Linked DNA regions of Homo sapiens: all the other regions are linked to region 1. Evidence: fine-mapped expression QTL. A gene starts in region 1. Each other region holds a variant in brackets. All regions are shown on one strand. Distances are between the middles of the regions.

Region 1 (4,143 bases):
ACCTGCCCAGAACAATTGGGGAGCAGGCACACCCAGAGGCTTTCTCCCTGTAGGGTTCACTTTGGCAGATGACTCTTGGTTAGATGCAGGAGAAAATGACTTTCATGGCCGAGGGAAAGCACAGCTTCTTTCAGACCCCACAGCCACCCCAAATAGGTGAGAATAAATCTGTGCTGATCAACTGCCTGTATTGGATTCAATCAGAGACCTCAAATAAGAAAAAAAGGAGCTAGAGCCTCCCCAGACATCCCCCTTTTGGGGATTTTTTGCATGGGCCAATACAGCAAATGACACCAACCAGCTCTCAGGCCAGCTCTCAGCCCCTGTCGCCTGCCTGCCCCTCATTCCTGGAGTTTTTCCCTTGGCCTCGAAGTCTAGTTCAGAACTAGCCTTCCCTTCCCAGAGGGTCCCCTAAGCAGCGAGACAAAGGTCTTCTCGCGTTCTCTCACTCTCCCTACTCTGGGCCCCGAGTGTGGGCAGCAGCCAGGAGCTGACACAGGTGCCCAGAAGGTTCTGTAGCAGAGTGACTGCGCTCGCCAGGTCAGGGCTCCGGTGGAGATGGGGGAGAAGGCAGAGGCCCCACCACTTTCAGGGCTTTTCAGGGCCAGCAGCTCAGCATCCCTGGATATGAGGAGCCTTAGAGGCTCTCACTCACTTTGGCCCGGCCATGAACTTCTCAACGGCTGCCAGTTGAGGGTGTGCATGTCAGCCCTGTTCTGGGCAGAGCCCGGTGTTCACACTCAGTCTCCCTTGCTCTAAGGGGCTTCCACAGCCCTGGGCATACCCAGGAAGGCAGCCCAGATTTCCGTGGGCATCCCCACCCCACAGAGTCCCAGGCCCTTCTAACAGCAGGGAGGTAGGACTCAGGACTGGGGCTGACAGACATAGCAGGCCCTGTCACATCCCAGCCACCCAGGTCCCCACATGTAAACTGGCAGGACTGGACTTGGGGCCACAGCCCACTCTTAAGCACCACTGACCAGTCTTGAAGACCCAGTCTTAGAACCTGCAGGAGGATCTCCTCTCTGGAAGGAGAATCCCGGACCACCCACCACCACACACCCCTCTCTTTCCCCCGGCTGCTTGCTGCCGGTGGTTTGGGACTGGAGCCCCAGAGGGCATACAGCCCTGGCCAGCCCCGGGTCCAAACACATCCCACAGGCAAAGTCAGATGCAAGAGAACCTGTTGGAGCAGTTTGGGCAACACTGTCACCTCCTCTTCCTCCTCCTCCATTTACTTCTTGGTGGGAAGGGACCTGCCCTAGGCATGGGGCCAGGTCATGGCCATCGGCAAGGGCCAAGAGGGCGGGGGTTTTCAGTGTCTCCAAGCGTTACCTCCTTCCCCCCTCCCCATCTTCCTTAGGGAGCATAAGATCATGTCAAAACCGGCGTTCCTGCCGGGAACGGAGAGGAGAGAAACGGGGAAAACTGAAGGCCAGGGAGGAGGTGGCAAAGCCACAACAAACCCCCCTTACCCAACTCACAGACACTATTCTGTCACCGCACTCCTGCCCGCGGACCTGCAGGCCTGCCGGGTCTAGCTGCTCCGCGGGGGTCCGGGAGGGGTCCTGCCCTCGGGGACAAGGTCCAAGGGAGCTCGCCGGCCACGGCGGAGGGTGGGCGCGCCGGCTGCCACCTCGCCGGAGCCCCCACGGACTCCCCAGCCCTGCCGGAGTCGGAGCCCGCCACTCGCGCCTCTCCCGGGACCCGCGCCGGGCTGCGCGCCCGCTTCTCCCGGCCCGGCCAACCCCGAGCCCGCGCGGGGAAAGTTCCTGCAACTTCGCAGGGGGGAGGCGGCGGGGGCTCCGGGCCTCGGCCTCCCTCCGGATGCCCGGCCTCTGCGGCCGCCGCGACCCAGCTGACAGGCGGCCCGGCCCGGGCCTGGAGCCCCAACTTCCCCGCGCCCCGAGCCCCGAGCCCACCTCCCGGCCCGCGGGCCTCGCTTTGTGCGCGGCGGCCAGGGGCGCCCAGCGCGGGCCCCGTGCTTGGCGCCCCCGCCCTGGGCACAAAAGGGCGCGCGGCCCGGCACGGCCCAGCCCCGACCGGGGCGCCCGGAATGCGGCGGCGGCGGCGGCGGCCCGTCCCCGAGCCGGGCCTGCGGGCGCGCAGCCGGGGGCGCGGGGCTCGGTCGGGCAAGGTGGCCGGGCCGGGCCGGGCCGAGCCGAGCAGCCGCCGCGCGCTCACCTGCCGTGGAACCAGTCCTTGCAGGCGTCGCACTCGATCATGAAGCGGGTAACGTCGTAGGGGAGCCGGCAGACGCAGTACACGGGCACCGTCGCCATGTTGCCGCGCCGCGCCGCCGCTCGGCCCCGCCGCTGCGCTGCCCGGGTCGGTCCGGGCCGGGCCGGGGGCCGGGCCGCGCGGGGGCGGCGGGGGCGGCGGGGCGCAGGCGGCGCCGCGGCCGGGAGGGGACGGGGACGGGGGCGCACGACAGCCCCCGCGCGCGCTCCCGGCCAGGCGCGTCCACACAATGCCGGGCGCGCTGGCTGGAGGGGCCGCGCCGGGAGCCGCCCGCCGGCCCGCGGGGCTCAGGGCGCTAGTGTGCGCGGGGGACGGGCCGCGCGCGGGACACAAAAGGGAATGGACGCGCGGGGGCGGCGGGCGGGGAGCCGCGGCCCCACCGAAGGGACCCCCGGCCGCCGAGCGGCCTCTACGTCAGCGCCCCGGGTGGCGCCGCCTCCGCCCGCCGGCCTGGGCCGCCGCTCCCGCCGCCGGGAAGGCGGGCTGGGGAACCCTGCGGGGGAGAAGGTGGGTTGGGGGACCCTGCCGGGGGAGAAGACGGCCGGGGGGACCCTGCCGGGGGAGAAGGCGGGTGGGGGGATCTCGAAGGTGGAAGATAGGCCGAGAAGGGCCCCCAAGGCTGAAGGTAGACCCAGGGGTCCGCGGGCGCGAAGGTGAGCTGGGGGAGCCTTGAGACTGAAAGTGGGGTGGGACCCCGGGGAGAAGGTGGGCGGGACCCCGAGGATAAGATAAGTTGGGGGAACCCGGGCAAGGCAGAAGGAGAGACGCGGGGTGCGGGAGTGGAGCCCGCAGGAGAGCCTTCCTAGTCTAGAAGGCCGACAAGCAAATACTTGGCCCTAACTTTCTTCTGACCCCCACCACGGTGGGGGTGTTCCTCCTCCTCGGCCGCGCTGCCTCCCTCCGTTCCCCACTGAGTTTCTGGTTGGGACACCACTTCCTCTTTCCCCTCATTTTCGGCTGGGGACTGCCGCCTCCCTCGCAGGATCCCGCGGACTTCCCTGATGCTCAGCCCCAGAGGAAGAGGACAGAAGCCCGGGCCGGGAGTGCGCTGGCACGGGCTGGTCAGCTCTGTTCCCTGGCATTTGAGCCCCCCAGGCCCGTGACCTAAGGGGCCGGGCTGGTCAGCTCTGTCAAGAGAGAGCTCCCTGGCATTTGAGCCCCCCAGGCCCGTGACCTAAGGGGCGAGGAGTATGGGAACCCTGGCCCCCGTGTCCAGGGAACTGAGCCCCCACGGTGGGGAGGAGAAGCGGAGGTGCGCTCTGAGGGGTCACTTGCACGCGTTCTAGAGGAGGACTTCCCTGCCTCGCCAGCGCTGCATCCTTGGGGCATCCGCGCTGGGCAGGGGCCACATCCCTGCCCGCCCTTCCTCCCTCACCCTCTTTCTCTCCCCATCCTCCCTCAGCAAAATCCGCATCGTGCTGGGAAATGTGGGCCACCCCTGCTCGGAATTCCAGAATCTCCGGACAGGAAACCTGGCTCAGTCTCCTAGCAGCATCCATGACAAGGCTCCTTAGCCCCTCAGCCCCTCACCATCACCGCCCACCTGCAGCTGCCAAGGGGCCGTTTGCTCCACCGCAGGCGGCTCAATTAAGGTCCTTCCTCCTACTGAGCCAAAATCTACCCTCAGAGTCAGCCACCCACCCCCAACAAGTGACCCCGTGGATACAGACTCAGGGCAGTGCCCAAAGCACTGGGCACTGGGGAAGGGGGCGGGGGGAGAAGTAGCTGGCCATAGAGGGAGAGGAAAGAGCAGGAGACCCCCAGCTCCCACACCTCTGGACTGGCCAGGATGGCCTGCAATAGGCCTTCCTACCTGAATTCCGGTTGTCACTGGTTCCCTTCCTCCTGGGTGAAAGCCTGGAATTTTTTTTTTTTTTTTTTTTTTACATACTGAAGTTCTGG
Region 2 (4,143 bases), 110 kb before region 1:
AAGCTTCCTCTACCAAATATGTGAGTCACTGCACATTTATGTAAGATTTCCCTTTCACAAGTGGACAAAACCTCACATTGGTGTACACACATGGTACTCCTGGACAACACATGGACAAAATCCTTCCTCTTCTGGATAAAAAGATATAGGTAACAACATGGAGGTGGCCTCACACACTTATTAAATCAGCCACAATGAGCAGAAATCACCCAGCACCGCAGTGGGCTGCTCCCAGGCAGGGCGTGCTGACAAGAGGGCTCTGTGGAGCTGCCGGCCCCTTTGGCAGCCCACCCTTCCCAACCAGGCAGCCTGAGAGACTTGTCCCCAAGAGCACACCGGGCAGGTGGAATCGTGGCACACCAGGCCCTCGATTCTCATTCTCACAAGACCCTCAGGAAACCAGGGGTATTGCTGTATTTTATAGGCAGGAAGTCAAGGCCCCAGGTCATACAGTGGGCAAAGGCAGCACCAGGACCTCCACCACCCACATCAGCACCAGAAGTGGGGTGCACGCTCTCTTTCTGCTCCTGCCTGCGAAGCCGGCGAGTCCATTGTTTGGTAAATGCAGTTTGCAGGGGACAAGGAGGATTCTGATTTTGGAATAGCACTGGCTGGACAGTGGGGCCCAGGGCCCAGCCTGGCCGGCGGGAGGACGATTAATGACAAGGATCCTACTTGGAGGCCGGGCGAGGGCCCAGCCAGCACCGGGTGTTTACAGCTCGCTCGTCTGTTTGGGGCCTGCAAATCCGTGTCAGATGTTAATGGAACAGCATCATTTTTCTACCGAGGTGGCATCGCTGGGGTTGTTTGGATGAGGCAACGGTGGGACTCGGCCTGGAAGAGGGTTCAAGGGCAATGGGTGGCTCAATGGGGCAGCTGGGGCTTGCCAGGGGGCATCCATCAGGCATCCGCAGCCCAGCTGGGCCCCTGAGGGCACCCCACCTTGCACCCCAGTCACCACAGCCAGTCCCTCTGGCCACAGGGCTCTGCAGACAAAAACTTTAAGTTGCGGCCAAGAAAAAAATGTACTGCAAAATGTGAGAAAGAACCGAAAACTGGAAATCAGTAAGTGTTTAAGCATCAGTACAGGCCTGAGGTCCAGGACATGGTTTCCCCTGCACCTCCTACTGTGCTTCAGTGCCAGGTCCACCCACGGAAGCTCTCGGGCCAGGCCTGGTCGCCCAAGGCAGCGCTGCAGGCCATCACCACTCTCGATAAGGCCTAGAGGGCAGAAGTCAAGGCCTGGGTGAGGACACCTCTCCCCTGCCTCAGCTCCAGTGGGAACCTCCCCTGCCCCTCCGGGTGGAGGCAGCCTTGCCGTCAGCAAGGCAGAGGGAAAAAAAAGAGGCCCAGAGAAGGAAAGTGACCTGCCCAAGGTCACACAGTGAGCAAGACCCTCTGAGCAGGGCTTGCAGAAGGGTAGAAGAGTGCTCCACAAGGGGCTGTTGGGAAGTGGGGGGCACACAGGGAAGCGTGGGCCCTGGAGCAACTCTATGTGGGTCAGCGCCATCACCCCCACTCTGGAGATGAGGAGGCTGAGGCTGTCCTCCAAGGCCACACAGCCAGGCTGGGCAAGGACCTGCCAAGGGCTTGAGGGGATGAAGCCTCCCTCTAACCCTGGCCCTGCTGGCTCTCAGTGCCCTCTCCTCACCTAACTGCCTCCTGGCTCTTCCCCAGCAAGCTGGCTCCTGCCTGAGGGCCTTGGCACAGGCTGTCCCCTCTGCTTACACTCTTCTCTCAGGCT[C/T]TCAAGGCTCTGCTCAAAGGCCCCCCAGGCCAGACTGTCTAAGCCTGCCCAGCCCATGACCCAGCCCTGTTCCCTCCATGGGCCGGGGCTTAGGGAGCATGCTAAGTGGTCAGCCAGCCAGAGGAAAGCTTGTAGTGCCCTGCATAGCACACAGTAGGTGCTCAGGAACTGTGACCACACTGGCCACAGGGTCACTGGACAAGACCAGCGGTATTGGACCCGGATATCTGAGACCTTCCGTCTGAGTACTTATGTCACCGTCACCACTGGGAATTATTATTAAGGAGACTGTTTTCGCGAAGACTGGAACACAGCTTGGATTTTAAAATCAGCAACATCTCTCTCTCTCTTTTTAACCCTGTACCGTAAGCCCTCTCAACTCTCCCTTCCACACTACCCTCCAGCCTCTTGATACTGCGAACAAGGAGGGCAGAGACCCTTGGCAGCCATATGTCTTTGACAAGACCTGCCTCAGTGTCACCATCCACAAATCAGGCTCCTTGCCCAGGGCTGTGCAGAGTCTGGGATGGGCACAGAGCTCAGGCTAGGCTAGGCTGGGGCAGGCAGGGGAAAGAGACCTGCCTATCTAGGGGAAAGGGGTGGTAAAGAGAGAGCCGCTGTGGAGACAGCGCTGGTGCCCCTTAGCTGAGCTCCGAGCTACACCCTGCTCTTCCACTGGCTCAGGCCCTCGCTGCAGCCATACACCTCAGGGCCTTTGCTCCTGCACCGCCCCTTGCCCCACACCCACAGCCCTCCTTCCGCAGGCCTTGCAAGCTGCCTCCTGGCTGCTGGCTGCAGAATGTCTCTCTGCAGGTCTCACTTATAAGCCCAAAGGCCCTGGAGCTGACCTGCTTGGACGTAAATTCCTGCTCTAGCAGCTGAGAGACTCTGTGCCTCAGTTTCTTCATCAGTAAAATAGAGACGCTCAGGGGATCTCCCTTGGGGGGCGACTGTGAAGCATGAACAAGGTAACAGAGCACATGTGCATCAATGACTAAGCTGAGCTGATTTTTACTGTCGCCTTCCTTCCCAGCACTCACAGCATGCTTGTTTTTTTGTTGTTGTTGTTGTTTTGGCCCATAGTTACCATCACGCCTGCCATTAGCCCTTAAGTCCCAGCACCCGCCCCAGCCCCAGGCACTAAATAACCTCACACAATTGTCCTCCTTGTTCCCGGCCCTGCCCTGCCCCCCGGTGGTTATTCTGGGTATGGCCCCAAAGGTTCGCAAATTGAACCCTGTTTTGCCAACTGCAGGTTCAGGGACCGGCTCTGGGTCCAGCCGGGGCGAAAGGATGTGGGCACATATATAGGCAGGGTCCTGCAGAATAGACTGACCTGGCCGAGTTTCTGAGCTCCCCACCAGGCATGGAGATGATGGGCACATGGCAGGGGCAGGGGAAGAGTCCCTCGCCTCTGGCCAACCAGCAGCAGGCTGTAGTCCTGGAGAGCTCACTCCACCTGCTCCCGAACTGCGGGGCTCCCCAAGGGCCTGACGCATCCCTCCACTGTGACGGTGGCCCCAGGGCCCTGCTCTGAGCCGCTGCAGACTCTCCTTTCTGTTCAGCCCACAGGGCCCATGTCTGACAACCCCAGGGTCTTGCTGCCTGCCTCTACCTCTGCTCATGTTGCTAGAAACATCACTTTCTATGGTCAGCTCCAGGCGCCCCTGGAGACCTGCCCTTCCCACCTGGAGGCATGTCTCCCCCACACGCTGTCCTGTGGTCCTGTGATCCTGTGGTCCAGGCGGCAGGTGTGGGTCCCGCTCTACCGTGAGCAGCGGGTGCCTCTTCTGAACCTCGGTGGACTCCTGGGCAGAACTGGCTGATGATAACACCTGCCCCAGGTTGTCAGTCATGGTGAAGTCTGGGGCAGGTTCTCCACACAGTCTCGGACACACAGTAGCCACTCAGTAAACAACTGTGGAATCCAGCGAGCTTTGGAGGGCGGGACCGGGGGCAGTTTGCTTGTGTGTGTTCACTGCACTGCGCACTGAACTTGCTCAGGCCAAGCTGGGCAGGCTGCAGGGACAGACAGGCCTGAATCTCAGAGGCGTGACCCACAAAGTCCGCTGCTGGTCGGCAGCTCCCTCCCAGACCTCACCCTCCCAACTTCACTGTCATAGGGCAGTCAGCACCGACACCAAGGTTAGGGGAAGAGCCACAGCTAGGGGCATGCTTGGGGCCACATGGGCCCCTGGCCTCCCGGCTGCAGGCGCACACCCAGAGATGCATGTCCAGGTCTGTGTGCCGCACACCTGGGCAGGATCCTTGCATGACACTTGGCTCACAGGCTGCCTGGCACTCAGTGGGGGCTGGGCTCGAGACACTGGGCCGGCCCGAGTGCAGCACAGGGCGGAGCCTGGGCTCCAGGAGATGCTGGGCAGCCGCAGAAGCCCCTT
Region 3 (4,143 bases), 54 kb before region 1:
TGTGCCTTGGTGTGCAAGGCGTGCCTGGAGTAAATGCAAAGACCAACTGGGGCATCATAGCCTCTGGGCACAGTGTACACTCACTTCAAATCTGAGCATGCACACTGGTGGAAGGTGCTAGAACTGTGTACCTTTGTCCCTGATGGAGCACACATACTTCAGTAACAACTGAAAATCTGCTTCAGAGAATTTATATAGCACATTCAGCACACAGATGTGTGCATGCACACACATACATACAGCTGTGGACTGAATATCCATCCCACCAAAATTTATCTGTTGAAATCCTGACCCCTAAGGTGATGATTTTATGAGGTGGGGCCTTTGGGAGGTTATGAGGTCATGAGGGTAAAGTCCTCCTGAATGGGATTAGTGTCCTTATAAAAGAGACCCCAGAAAGCTGCCTCCTTCCTTCCACCATATGAGGACATGGCAAGAGGGCACTGTCTATGAACCAGAAGCAGGCCCTCACCACACACTGAATCAGCCAGCACCTTGATCTTGGACTTCCAGCCTCCAGAACTGTAAGAAATAAATTTTCTATTACTTAAGCCCTCCAGTCTGTGGTATTTTGTTACGGCAGCCTGAACAGAGTATGACATACACACAAGCACATGCACACACACATACACATGCACAAATATGTAAGCATACATGTACATGCACACACACATGTGTACAGCCAGGCAGGGGCTGGGGGTCCCACCATCTGCAACCTCAGCACTGTCTGCTAGTCTAGAATGTCTCTCCCTGGGCAGCTGGCCGTAGGAGACAGGAAGGGGAGCCTGCACTGAGGTTTTAGCTGCAATCAAGGGCAGGTTGGGACACCAGGCCTCTGCCCAAACTCCCTGCAGGGACAGGGGCAGGGTCTGGGTGAGGCAGGCACACAGGGCTCCCATGGCAGGTGGGCTGTTTCTGGGGATGTCTGGGGACATTAGAGAAATCAAAACAGTGTGCTCACCAATATGTGAAACCTGCCCAGCCCCAGCACCACACCATTGCTCTACCCCAGCCCCAACTCATGCAAGAGCCCCCAAGCAAGGACCCCTTGAAATGTATGCTGACTATCAGAAGAGGCCCCTGGCCCAGGGGTTTCTGACACTTTCTTTTCTACCAGTCTGAAAGCCTCTTCTCAAGTGATGCACACGTGTACCTCCCACACAAAAGCAACGCCACCCCAGCATCCTCCCAAGCCCAACTCAGGTAGGACCTGAGAGGGTCCTACCCCCCAGGAAAGCACCTCCTGGGGTATCCTGGCTCCAACCCTACTCTGCTCTGACACCTGCCCCCTAGGCCCCATGGGGCAGCCCCAGGTCCCCACTGGAAGCTCAGCCCTGTTTGTGTCATTCCTGTCGTAAAGACAGCTTGGCCCTGAGCTTTCTGGGTGGGCTCATTGAGGTGCCAGAAGCATGAGGATGCCCCGCTGGGCTGAACCTTCCTACCCTTTATCTGTTTTTGAGCAATAACCAGATGATAGGTTAATGAGCTTGCCGTAGGCAGATGCATTCTGAGCATAAATGCAGCCAACTACTGGGGACCAGGAGTAAGAAGGCAATTTAGGAATCCCAGAACCTCCCCACAGGCAAACTATCAGCCTGAAAGTTCAGGAAGAGCTGCTAGCTGCTAGCTTCTCCTCATCACCCGCTTGCATATTTGTTGAGGCTGTGCTGGGGATAGGGTCGAGACCTGAAACACATGCAGCCCCCACCGCTGTCCAGCAATAGACAGGAGAAAAGCATTCAGGCCTTGGGAGAGGCCAAGAAAGAGCAGCCAGGTCCTCAGAGTAGTGAGACCCAGCATCACCAGCTGCCAGGCCAGGCCTCCAAGGCTCCCTCGACCCAGCCTCAGCTCACAGAACAGGGGTGCTGGAGCCCCTTCCACCTATTGCCCGCATCCTCCCTCTGCCCCTACTGATTCCATAGGACTCATCCCACAGGGGTCCGGGGGTCTGGTGCTTCAGCTTGCAACTGGGCACTGGGAGGGGTCTCCCTTTGAAGGGGAGTGACTCAGACTGGCTGTGACCTGGAGCCAGATGCATTTCCTGCCCCACCTTGTCCAGGGCTCAGGTCAGCAGAGATGTGATCAGCTGACCCAGCCAGGGCCCATGTCCAGCCTGCAGATTCTGTGAGCACCCAAGACCCTCCAGTGAAGTGGAAACCAGAGGCCACATTAACACACGCACACCCATATCCATACCATCTGTCCTGTCTACAGGCCACACCCCTCCCGAGTCCTTGCAGACCACCACACAGCTCCCCCTCTGCAACCAGGGCTGAGGCTTGGAGCTCAAGGCTCATATAACCTCCAGCTCACCTGGCTGAACCTGCACAGGGTGAACCAAGCCTGTATCCCAGGACCCAGCACACCTGAAAGGGCCAAGAAGAAAACGAAGCCTCAGCCCTTAGGACACACAAACAGCAGGTTGTGTGGGAAAGGCAAGGGCCCTCCAAGATTCTCTGCAGAGGA[A/G]GAGGTGGGTGGCATGAGGCGGGGCTGGAAAAGGAGGGGAGGACAGAGCCCACCAACAATGCACGTGCCCAGAAAACAGACAGGCTGGGCCCCCCGTGTAGCAGTGGCTGGCTGGGCCGGGCTAGGCTGGGGGCCCCTAGAAAACCCCCGCATCACCATTTATCCAGGTCCCCAAGTCCGTGTCCCCCTAACTCAGGCTGGCCTGGCCTCTCGCTAGGCCTCAGAAGGCCCTTTGAGTCTTTGCACAGCTGCCTCTGCCAGCGGGAGCTGATCAGGAGGGGCTACAGTGGGCCTAGTGAGGCTACAGGGGACAGTAAGCTAGGCTGGCAGGGTCCCCAGGCCTAGACACTACTCAGGGCGTTTTGCCCCCAGCAACCCAGGGCCCAGGCCCAGCAGAGACCTCACCCTCCACGCAGCCCAGGCAGGGTGGATGCTGCTCTCTTCCGCAAGAGATGGCCGCTTGGGCTGCGGTACTTACAGGTGGACTTCCCATGGGTTTTCTCACAGTTTGGGCAGTGGTATATGTCGATGTCGGGCGCCTCCTCCTCTTCCACCCCAACACAGCTGAAACGAGACGAAATAGACCATTACCTAGGCATTCAGCACCCCCTCAAGCACTTTCCATCTGCGAAGCTCTAGGGAGAATCCCTGCTCATTGTCTGGGAACCTGGGCCAGATGGAGCACAGCTGTGCAGGGACAGTGTTCTACTAGGAAAGCAGGGTGGAGGGAAAGAGCTGCAGAGATGTCCTCCTGGAAAGGCCTCTGCAGCCTGGACCTAGATACAGCGTCTGGATATGCCCCACCATGAGGACCCAATGAATAGGCCATCTACCAAGCCTGCCTGGGTGAGGGTCACCAATGCCCCGTCACCCAGGGGGCAGGGAAGGAAGAGGGGTTCTCAGAGCCAGGCTGTCCCCATCACTTCACCAGGGGTAACCTGAGGGGGCAGAAAACACCAGAGGCAGCTCAGAGCCCCTCCTGTGGGCCATACCATAGCCACCCATCCAGCTCATCCTCATGGGGGCCAAGAAGAGGCCTACCAGCCTGGCCTTAGGACATGTCCAGGACTCCAGACATCATGACCACTCTTTCCTCATTCCCTCCCTGGAGTTCCTCCAGACCCCTTGCAAACCTGCTTGGAGACTTAGAACAAGAGAGAGCCACCTCCTATGCAGATGGTCGGGCTACAGGCCTTAAGCCATTTGAGGAATGAACACAAAGAGTATCAAAGGACACAACCTAAGACATCAATAAACTTCTACAGAAGCTAACCCAGCAAAATGGAAATGCTTTGTTTTATTCTGATACTTTTTTTAGTTAAAAGTGACATGAGGCCAGGCACGGTGGCTCATGTCTGTAATCCCAGCACTTTGAGAGGCCGAGGTGGGCGGATCACTTGAGGTCAGGAGTTCGAGATCAGCCTGGCCAACATGGTGAAACCCTGTCTGTAATAAAAATACAAAAAAAATTAGCCGGAGCACAGTGGCACACACCTGTAATCCCAGCTATTCGGGAGGCTGAGGTGGGAGTATTGTTTGAGCCTGGAAGGCAGAGGTTGCAGTGAGCCGAGATTGCACCACTGCACTCCAGCCTGGGCAACAGAATGAGACTCCATCTCAAACAAAAAAAAAGTGACGTGAGAATGGGCATCTGTAACATGTAAAGAAGCCCCCAAG

Evidence for each region. PIP is the estimated chance that this variant, and not a neighbour inherited with it, causes the effect. A credible set is the group of variants that fine-mapping cannot tell apart.
Region 2: its variant is the best candidate, but not a certain one, in a credible set for the expression of PHF2 in lung (TOPMed, PIP 0.83).
Region 3: its variant is the best candidate, but not a certain one, in a credible set for the expression of PHF2 in whole blood (INTERVAL, PIP 0.79).

What each region holds. Positions count from the first base shown.
Region 1 is chr9:93,574,913-93,579,055 of GRCh38, reverse strand. PHF2 (PHD finger protein 2) reads right to left here and starts at 2,472. Exons shown (of 22, transcript NM_005392.4): 1 at 2,185-2,472. The coding sequence starts at 2,282. RefSeq lists enhancers at 683-832, 3,014-3,293, 2,975-3,569, 3,570-4,143 and silencers at 1,694-1,853, 2,444-2,743, 2,854-2,913.
Region 2 is chr9:93,681,123-93,685,265 of GRCh38, reverse strand. No RefSeq gene overlaps it. Among named protein-coding and RNA genes, the nearest start is that of MIR548AU, 88 kb to the right of the region's middle. The variant C/T (reference allele first, on the strand shown) is at 1,745.
Region 3 is chr9:93,628,857-93,632,999 of GRCh38, reverse strand. PHF2 (PHD finger protein 2) reads right to left here. Exons shown (of 22, transcript NM_005392.4): 2 at 2,945-3,030. Among named protein-coding and RNA genes, the nearest start is that of MIR548AU, 36 kb to the right of the region's middle. The variant A/G (reference allele first, on the strand shown) is at 2,467.